Homo sapiens: one gene and its partners. The protein of the gene in region 2 purifies or fractionates together with the protein of the main gene of each other region. This does not show direct contact. Each region holds a gene or a part of one and is shown on either strand. Other genes may lie near its edges.

Evidence for each region.
Region 1: the proteins of CTNS (region 2) and ENPP4 fractionate together in Homo sapiens (co-fractionation; one large-scale study listed by BioGRID). This does not show direct contact.
Region 3: the proteins of CTNS (region 2) and IFITM2 fractionate together in Homo sapiens (co-fractionation; one large-scale study listed by BioGRID). This does not show direct contact.

Annotation. Positions count from the first base shown.
Region 1 is NC_000006.12:46,143,450-46,147,104, reverse strand, and holds the end of ENPP4 (bis(5'-adenosyl)-triphosphatase ENPP4 precursor), read right to left. Parts: coding exon 3,465-3,655; 3' UTR 417-3,464; downstream 1-416. UniProt on the Homo sapiens protein: Hydrolyzes extracellular Ap3A into AMP and ADP, and Ap4A into AMP and ATP. Ap3A and Ap4A are diadenosine polyphosphates thought to induce proliferation of vascular smooth muscle cells.
Region 2 is NC_000017.11:3,660,759-3,663,757, forward strand, and holds the end of CTNS (cystinosin isoform 2 precursor), read left to right. Parts: 3' UTR 1-2,345; downstream 2,346-2,999. Other genes in the region: TAX1BP3 (tax1-binding protein 3), read right to left, coding at 2,990-2,999. UniProt on the Homo sapiens protein: Cystine/H(+) symporter that mediates export of cystine, the oxidized dimer of cysteine, from lysosomes. Plays an important role in melanin synthesis by catalyzing cystine export from melanosomes, possibly by inhibiting pheomelanin synthesis.
Region 3 is NC_000011.10:306,391-309,928, reverse strand, and holds IFITM2 (interferon-induced transmembrane protein 2), read right to left. Parts: upstream 2,114-3,538; 5' UTR 1,737-2,113; coding exon 1,491-1,736; intron 917-1,490; coding exon 764-916; 3' UTR 534-763; downstream 1-533.

The DNA of each region.
Region 1 (3,655 bases), on a different chromosome or scaffold from region 2:
CAAAAATAGGAAATGAATTAATCACTGCTCTAATAGGAGAATTCTTGAATCTATATTCAATTGGACAAGTCATTAAATGCCTATGGCTATGTACAAAGTTTAAACATTATAATGCTTCCCCTACCATCCCCACTATTTTATAATCGGTTTTTTTCAAACCTCTTCTCTTCTACCATAAGCCAATAAATCATAGCTCTGGAGGTTCTATAAAACTTATCTTGGCTTTCTTTCCAATGATGTTCTTATGCTGGATTGTATACTTACACACTGTTTTAAACTTTTTGTTAAAGAGTTAAAAAATCCTAATAAACACCTATGTGGGCTTCTATAATATTACTAAGTCATGTCAACATCTAGCACAGTAAGTATATTTTGCAAGAAGGTAACAAATGTAAAAATCACCAGTGACACTGAACTTTATATTTAATAATTACAGTAAGAATTTTTTGGTAGATTTTATTCACACACATTTTAAAAATCATGAACAAAGTCATTAATTCTGAACTCAAGTAACAGTCAAAAATATTTTAATTTAAATTAAGGCACTACATACACATTTCTTTAAAGCACACTGATGTTATTTTATTTACACACTATTTTAAGAATTAACAATAAATACACATTTTCCATCTCCTCCTTGTCCTTCATTTATAACTTTATATGTTAACAAGGAAGTAAAACCCTCCAAATAAAAGGAATTAAATGCAATAATCCATAAAGCTTATCAGATATGGGCACAAGAAGGAGACACCCAAAAACAATGTAAAAACATTTTAATCCTTTAATGTTACAAGAATTTATCTATAAATTCTTATGCCATTCCTAGTGGAATAATAATATAAAACCTATACACAAACATTGAAATATGTTTTATTCTATTGCTATTTACCAGAAGAATTGCATATAAATAACAGCAGCAGAACTGTCCCTATGTTATACATGAATGTACTTATTCTGAATTCACTGACTGAATTAAAAACACTTAACTCAAACTTTTCCTATTACCTTGGGGTATTGTTTTCACAAACAAGTAAATGTTTCCTAGAGCCAAATACTTTCTACACCCAGAAAATAGAGCAGCATGTTAGTTATTTAACAAAATACACACCAAAACCTTAATGTGAAAGGCTAGTTTTACTATAAGATTTTTCTCAGTGTACTAAAGGAGTCAATGGCTTTAACAGTGATAATTTTTTAAAAGATACAAATGAATTAACACATAGTTCAATATAATATATGTTTTATTAAATAAATACTATTCTTCTTGTCCCATCAACATATACTTTTTAAATTTTTGCTTAATTTACAATTCGAGTTAATATTTTGAGAACGTAAGGAAAGACAAATAGGTAAATGTCTTGTTGAAAGGGTTAAGATACTGACAGGACATACCTTCCTGTTCCATCCTATATAAAATCCACTCATGAGTTGGATGCCAAGTATAGATTTCTGAAACTCATAACCACCAATCACGATAATGCAATCATTAAAACTCACACCATTGCAAGGACCAAGTATAAAATATTCTGCTACTATTTTAGATACTTCAAAAACATCCACTACTTTAAATGAAAAGCTTTAAATGTGTCAATGCTATTTGCTTTTTAATGGAAATTAAAGTAGAATTTTTCTATTATTCTGTTTCGATCAACTATTAACCTTTAGGATAATTGTTTTATGTGAAAAAAATTAGAAATTTTTTTAAAGCAAAATTAGTACTATTGGTTTTTATTTATTTTACTGTTCTTAATACAGTTAACTTATGACCAACAGCATGGATTATTTATACAGGGTTTGAAAATGCCTCTCAACAACCACAAATACAATAGGCAGCAAATACCAGGCTCAAGAAATTAGCAGTGACTCAATAGGACGCACTGTATGTTTGATGACTGGCACCACTGTTGTTCTTTACCATCACAGATAATCAATATTTAACTGGGCTGCATATTTATTATACTTTTATATTTGTAAAACAGTTACCAAGTTTATTTTATATTGTCAAAACTTTAAAGATCATACTATTAACTGCTTGTCTCACGTACTGATGAATGGTTCTTGAGCCCAATTTTTCCCCTACTAAATATAATCTAGTCTGTCACAACCTAGTTTCTTCATATTAATTTTGATTACTAGAAGGTACCAGCTAGCAAAGGCAGGATGACAGTTCTTCACAATAAACCCTTGGCTCTGAACAAACATGTTAAACAGAGGGATTATTTCTGTGATGCAAATACTGGAGAAAAAAGTGGAGGTAGCACTAAGGCTATTCTGCCACTTAACATATGAATGGTGTGAAAGACCAAAAGATACTAAATTTTGTTTAAAATTTCTTAACTATTCTATAGCCTAAAAAGTAAGGCATAAAGTCCCAAAGATAAATACAAAAATCTCCATTCCTCATTCTGTCCCAGTCAAATTGAGATTTGTATTTGGGTCATAAATTTTTCTGTAGCATTTGGATACCTCAGGTTACAACAAACATGAGAGAGTTAAATGATAAAAGTTAATGAAATTAAGTTATGATTTTAACTTGTGAGTTAGGAGAAAGTAAACAAATATGAAGTGCAAAAATAACCTTTCCTGAGATCTGTGTGCTTCAGGAATGTGGAAGCCTGGCCACAGTCCATCTCTGACCTCCTTATATAGTAAATCACATAATGTCCACACAACCACACACAAACACACTTGCACAGGCACACGCAAACAACTAAGTAACTTACATAAAGGCATTAAGCATAGATAGAGAGAAGAGCACTTGTCTCTCTTTTCTTCTGAATTTTTTAACAATAATCTTTAAGACTAACAGCTTAAGACATAATGGTGACAACTCAGGCTTTTATCAAATGGTCTTTGCTTTTTTTTTCAAATAGGTTTCCTTAAAATATTTCTTCATTTGCTATATCTTTTCTGTCTGCTCCAATTTTATTTACCATCACAGAGCATTTCCTACCTCAAGAGGGTACTTGAGATACAAACTAATTAAAGGTAAATATAAAAATATAGGAAGCTTTTCCTCCCTAATATACAAAATTCACAAATTGCATAAAGATTTCTGTTGTTTTCTTTACAAATATATAAATTTATTAGAAAAACATGCCTACTAAATTTTGGTATATTTTCATTTAAAGATGTATCACATCTTCATCGCAAAATACAAGCAGAGGAAGTATTTTTCTCAAAAGCCATTTTTAGTATTTCTAGTTAGGATTGATGTTACCTAATGATTTCCTACCACAAGATGTTACCTAATGATTTACTAACAATTTTACTATGGTCAGCGTTATCTTATTAGCAAATGCACCGAAACAAAACACAAGGAAAACAAAGTAATAATTTTAACATGCTTAGTCTAAGTTCTTTGTCTTTCAAAGTATTCTTTTTCATAGTTACAACACTATTCTTTGGATGTATTCTTAGTTTTGTGATTAATCAAAGACACTTTGTATAAGCCCTAGCACATGTCACCCAATTAAAGGATCATCATCATCTTCTTGTAGCTGAAGTCGAGAAAATGGACGAGGTACAGAAAGTCTATTCTGCATGATTATTATGAGGCATGTTAGCATGGTTAACACCAAGAGTGAACCGATAACAATCGCGATGGCTTCTGGGAGATTAATGCACCACTGGTCAACTAACAAGCACTTAGTAT
Region 2 (2,999 bases):
CACTTTGCTGCCACCGCTGCATTCCCAGAGATCAAGCAGCCCGGTGCCGTGGCCAGTGAACTCAGAGGTGCTGGTGGACGGGCTAGGACTTTGGGGTTAGGCCATGGGGCTCTTTCTCTGAAGGCCACTTTCCTGACGTACTCTCTGTACATAACTCAGCGTCCGTGACTGCAGTAACAGCCAGCCCTACCCAGAGTATTTCTGAGCCATGAGGGGCCCACCAGATTGGTTCTGAATTGGATTCATGCCCAGCGCATTAGCATAGTAACTCCTTTCAGATTTTTTGGAGGGACGTTTGGAAGTGGCTTACTCTCTTCTGCCCTCTCTCCTACCTCCACCTTCTCAGATTAGCCCCATCTGAGCACATCCAGCTGCTCCTTACCCAGCATCTGGAGTACAGGACATAGCTCTCTCCTGCTACCAGTCTGTGCCTTAGAGGTCTGTTAGGCCTGCCAAACGGCGACCAGCTCCCCTGGAGCGAGGGCAGGCCCCTTCCCTCTCTTTCCCCAGACACCTACTTGAGACTCACCAATTTCTGGCCTGTTCAGGAGCCTCAGATAAGTATTTGTACTTGAGACCACCTCACACAATCTGTATGGGCCCAACCCTGATCTCAAACCTCCTTCCCTCTGCCCAAAGCTGTCCTTCCTATGGCAGGAGGGGTGGGGGTCCCAGGACGTGCCTCATACATGACTTGAGCTTGTCAGTCCACTGAGTTTCCTTCTACGAGATCAACGCGAGGGGCCTGTATCTTGAATTAAAACCTACTCGCTTCCTTTCTGCACTCTGTGTGCTCGATACAGAAGGCAGGTGTGCTGGCCTTCAGAGCCAGGTGCCCTGCTCCCCTCGTGTAAGGAAGCGCATAAGGTTGTGAAGGTCACTGACCCGAGAGCGCTGCGTGCTGACCCCACACTTCACTGGGGAGCCCTCTTGGGTAGCGCGAGACGCCTACCCGCCCAGGGCCAGGTCAGTCTCCCAGGCTCCGTGTCTTCACGGTTACCAGGGCACGCCACTCAATCTGGATGTGAGCCGGGGTGGATGAGGTTCTGAAGGGCACACCAGCACTGGGAGCGGGGGCAGTGGGGGTCTTATTCTCCAGACGCTTCCTCTATCTAGTTGTAACAAACGTCAAAGAATGTCAGGTCTTGTTTCTGCAGAGCAGACTTTGGCCTGACGGGGTCCACAGACCTGTTTCACTTGCAACACCCAGTAAATGTGTTACTGGGTGCCCTACTTTAAAAATCAGAGATTTCAAATGATTGACTTTTCCGGCTGAGTGCGGTGGCTCACGCCTGTAATCCCAGCACTTTGGGAGGCCAAGGCAGATGGATCACCTGACATCAGGAGTTCGAGACCAGCCTAGCCAACATTGCAAAACCCCATCTCTACTAAAGATACAAAAATTAGCTGGGCATGGTGGCGGGCACCTGTAATCCCAGCTACTTGGTTGGCTGAGGCAGGAGAATTACTTGAACCCAGGAGGCGGAGGTTGCAGTGAGCGAAGATCACGCCATTGCACTCCAGCCTGGGCAACAAGAACGAAACTCCATCTCAAAAAAAAAAAAAAATTATTGACTTTTCTTTAAAATCTGATTTGGCAGTGCTAGGTAGGTCCAGGAGTGCTAACACCTTCCCAGAGGTGGTACGCAGGTAGTCAGGTGCTCTCTGACTCACCCCCATCTGGCCAGATCACGGCCCCCAGCAACACGTGGGGTTGTGTCCCTCGCTGGGATACACGGAGTGCCCTTATAGGCAGGGAGTCTTATAGGCAGGGGTCTCTCCCAGGCACCTCTGGGTGTCCCTACGGCCCCTCCCAGGTGGGAGCTGAGGCTAGGTTGCAAAAAGGAGGTTGGGAGCAAGTAGGGGCTTCACAGTAACACCCAAGAAAGCACACGCACCCCAGGGTCCCACCCCAGTGCTCCCAGACACTCCCACAGATGTGGTTCTGGTCAGGCGCAGTGCAGCTGCTGCGGCTCCACCAGCCCCGGGCTTTCAGGCAGGTGGGCCTGGGAGTAGTTGAGCTTTGTCCCAGAACAGTGGGGGATGGGGCCATCATTAAAACCACAGCTCTGGCCCCAATATCCCACCGCCACCCCCACCCCGATATCCCAGCCCATGCCTCAGCAAAGCCCCCTGTGAATTCCAGCATTTTTATTGAGCGCACCACATCGGGGAGGGGCGGCAGTGGTTTCCACGGTAACCAAAGTAAGGCTTGTGCACTTGCTGAGCTTCCAGATGCGAATTAGTAAAAGCTAAATTCAAAAGTAGAATGGGCATCTCCAAAGAGTACGATAAAAACATTTTGTATCAAACTTGTGATTAAAAAAATACAAAAGTTAAACCCACAGGCAAAGAGGAAAATGACAATCCTGAGAGCTGCCCTGATAGGTGAGCCTCGAACCTCGTCTAAATCCGTAAGAAGGCAAACCCTGGGGAGGCCAGCACCCCTCGGGAGAGTGGGAGTGAACGCGGAGCCCACCTGGCTTCATCTGGGCAAAGCTTCGTAGCGCCTCTGGCAGGATGTGTGTCCAGTCCCCCGAGGGGCAGAGGCACTGCGGTGTGGACACACGAGGGCTGGGGGGCAGGGGCGGAGCCGAACCCTGCAGCCAGGCAAAAGCGGGAAAGGCCTGGTTCCTCCAGCATTTCCCAGCTTTTGGGGGCTCCCAAGAGATAGTGGTTCCCACTTGCCCAGCCACTGCTGTGGCCAAGCAGCAGGGTCGGACCTGAGCCTGTGGTCACAGCAGACTGGCTACTACTCAGCTCCAGGCCCTTATTTCCAATCCTCGGTGTCCAGGAGAGAAAGCCGGTCCCAGAGGCCCCAGGCCAGGGATGGGAGAAGGGAAGGAAGGCCAGGCCAGGCCTCTGGGACCAGCTATAGCCCTTCTGAGCTGGGGCCCAGCGGTCAGCAGAAGCCAGATGGGGACAGAGTGTGGAAGTGGCGTTACTGTACAGAGAGGCGGCAGGCAGGAGTCGCAGATGGTGGTGGCTGCTAGGACAGC
Region 3 (3,538 bases), on a different chromosome or scaffold from region 2:
TCCCCTAAAACTAAAAGGAATGTTAAAAGACCCTTTTTCTGTGACCAGCGGACCTTATCTATGCTCCCAATTCCAATTCCTTGTGAACATACTTTGTAAAGTCCTGTAAAATCCTGTCTCTTTTGCCATGCTGCTGCAAGGTCATAAAGTAGATAAAATTAGATAAAACCTAAGTTGCAATTCTGTTTTTCCTCAAAATCTAAGACATGTCACAAAATAATTTACTGCCTTTGTTTCTCTCTCTGGTAACATCTTCCCACCACATGTATTTCCCGCCTTAAAGAGATTAAAAGGCAATCACCCAAAACCAACAGTGGCTACCCTCTCCGGACCCCTTCCATGCTGTGTAAGCTTTGTACTGTCACTCTGCTCAATAAAACCTACAGTTTTTTTCTTCTCTTGGTCTGTGTCTCCATCACTCGCCGCGGGCAGCCGCCACACCCAATTCTTTGGTGTGGCTAAGGCAAGAACGTTTGGCATTACATTTAATCTCAGAACCAGCAGGACCGCTCCCCAGGTGAAGTCACAGCAGCACCAGAAACATATACACTTTATTGAATGCCATTGTAGAAAAGCGTGTGAGGATAAAGGGCTGATGCAGGACTCGGCTGTGGGGACAGGGCGAGGAATGGAAGGTGGAGTAAGTGGAATACAGGTCAAGGGCAGAGCTCCTGGCCTCTGGGGGCAGGGCGAGGAATGGAAGATAGAGTACGTGGGATACAGGTCACGGGCAGAGCTCCTGGCCTCAATGATGCCTCCTGATCTATCGCTGGGCCTGGACGACCAACACTGGGATGATGATGAGCAGAATGGTCATGAAGATGCCCAAAATCAGGGCCCAGATGTTCAGGCACTTGGCGGTGGAGGCATAGGCCTGGGCCCCGGTCACGTCGCCAACCATCTTCCTGTCCCTAGACTGGGGGAGAGGAGATGGTGAGGGGACCAGGATCCCCCAGCTGAGAGCCGCGTGCTATGGCTCCAGCTCCTCACTGTCTCCTCCCTGCCCTGAGATCAGGGACCACCTCCTCCCCTTCCTCACCCGGCTCAGACTCTCCAGGAGCCTCGGGGCTCATCCTCCTTCTGCCTTGGCCCCAGCACAGGCTGTTCTCCCCACCATGGGGTGAAGTCACCTGTGAGTTCCCTTCTCACTTTCTGGGAGAGCCTGGGTGCCAGTCTGGAAGGTGAAGGTGTAATTTCTTACTGGGCTATAGGGAGAACTGCTCTGGGCTAGTGGATAGCCGGGGACAGACTCTGAGCCAGCCAGCCAGCCTCCTGGAGCCTCCTCCTAGACCTGCACTGGGCAGATTCCCCAAGCCACACACACACACAGATCACACAGACAAAGCCACTGACGTGGGCACACACAGGACAGACGTGCACACAAACTCACAGTCACAGGGACACACAAGTCCCCACCCCAGGCAGCATGTGGGCAGGTGGAGCCCCAGGCTCACCGGCACCCCCTGGATTTCCGCCAGGGCCATACGCACCTTCACGGAGTACGCGAATGCTATGAAGCCCAGGCAGCAGGTGTTCATGAAGAGGGTGTTGAACAGGGACCAGACCACATGGTCAGGCACGGAGGTCTCGCTGCGGATGTGGATCACGGTGGACATCGGGGGAGCAGGGTTGTGGGGCACCCCCAGCATAGCCACTTCCTGCTCCTCCTTGAGCATCTCGTAGTTGGGAGGCTGGCCGCTGTTGACAGGAGAGAAGGTTTGCACAATGTGGTTCATGGTGACCAGCGGTGATCGGGTTACCGGGATGGTTCTCAGTGAGCCCTCCCTTTCCCCAGTAGTTCCGTTTTCTCAACAGTTTCCTCTTCCTGGCATTTGTCAAATGCAGAGCTGGCCAGGGCCAGATAAGGGCAGAACAAATTCCTGAGGATCAAATTACTTTAGGAGAGGGAGGAAAGAGGGGCTGAGGGCTAAGAGGGGCTTCCTCTCTAGAGCCCAAAGGAGCACAAGTCTCATCTTGTTAGTGGTGTGGGGTCCTGGAGACTTCCCCTGTGTTGGGAGTCTCCACACCCCAGGCCAGCAGCTGCAGGACCTCACTGTCCCGGTTCAGGGCTCCTGCCAGGCCTGCGCTGACGCCTCCACACTCCAGGCCCCACAACCGTTTCCCCAAAGCCCTCACCTCTGCCGGGCGCCGTGGCTCACGCCTGTAATCCCAGCACTTTGGGAGGCTGAGGTGGGAGGATCATGAGGTCAGGAGATCGAGACCATCCTGGCTAACACGGTGAAACCCCGTCTCTACTAAATATACAAAAAAAAATTAGCCGGGTGTGATGGCGGGCACCTGTAGTCCCAGCTACTTGGGAGGCTGAGGTAGGAGAATGGCGTGAACCGGGGAGGCGGAGCTTGCAGTGAGCCAAGGTTGTGCCACTGCACTCCAGCCTGGGCAACAGAGCCAGACTCCGTCTCAAAAAAAAAAAAAAGCCCTCATCTCACTTGTCACAGGCCTCATCTGCTGACATCCCTTGTCCTTTGCTGGGGTTGCAGTCCTGCTCCATGCGGGTTTGGGGGTTAAAGGTCCCCGTGTCTCCTGGTGCAGGTCAGAGGGTTGGCGGCCAATGTTGCCTGCCCCAAAGGAGCCCTCCAGGCCCAGGAAAGGGGACTCTGGGAGCACTGACAGAAGAGGGGGCTGTGGGATGCCAATAGCAGAGACCTGGACGGTGGAGTTAGAAGCCATGGCCCTTTCCCCTGGAGGCCCACCTGGGTGACGGCTCCCAGACCCGCTCCACACAGCCCAGCAGCACCCACGCTGCCCAGAGCTCTGGCTGGCTGGTCCCTGGGGCACCCTCCAGATTTCCAGGTTCTGATCATCTCTGCCTCTTCCCTGGGTCCTCACACGGGTGCCAGCTGCTTCCTGTAGTTGCCGCCTGTTTTTCCCATGAACCGGTGCTGCCTCTGAGCAGCTCCTGAGGTTACAGCCTCCCTGTGGAAACACCTTGTGTGGCCTCTGGGCTTCTTCCTGGACCTTCCTTGGCAGAGGCTATTGCAGCAAACAGAGCTGATGCTGTGCACTTGAGCTTGTCAGAGGGGACAGTGCGGGTCACAGGGGCAGGAACGTGGCCTGCAGGCCTATGTGCACCGCGACCTGCGCCCTGTTTAATTCCTGATGTGCTACATGGGCCCATTTTCCTGGGCTTATTCTCCCACCAGGCCAGACTCCGCAGAGGACATCGCTGAGGGTGGAATTTACAGAGATGGGCAGCTGCTCACCCTGCTGTAGCCTTTCACCTCAGCGGGTGGTCAGGTCCACGTCAGTATTCCAGAGTTTACATGACGGTAGCGTGCAGCCGTGTAACTGCAGAGTGATGTGTTTGAGTAACGATGACTTTGGCTCTATAAGATAAATTTTATTGATAATTTCTAAGATTCCTAAGATTTAACTTTAACAATGGCTGTGTCTACCATCGACTCACAGTGCTTCTCGACGTCGAACACCCTAAGTCCTCCTCCTTCTGCTGGCTGGGGTGAGCTCTAAGGGCTTAGCCATGTCCAGGCCTCTACAGGCCTTCTATTCTGGGCCATGT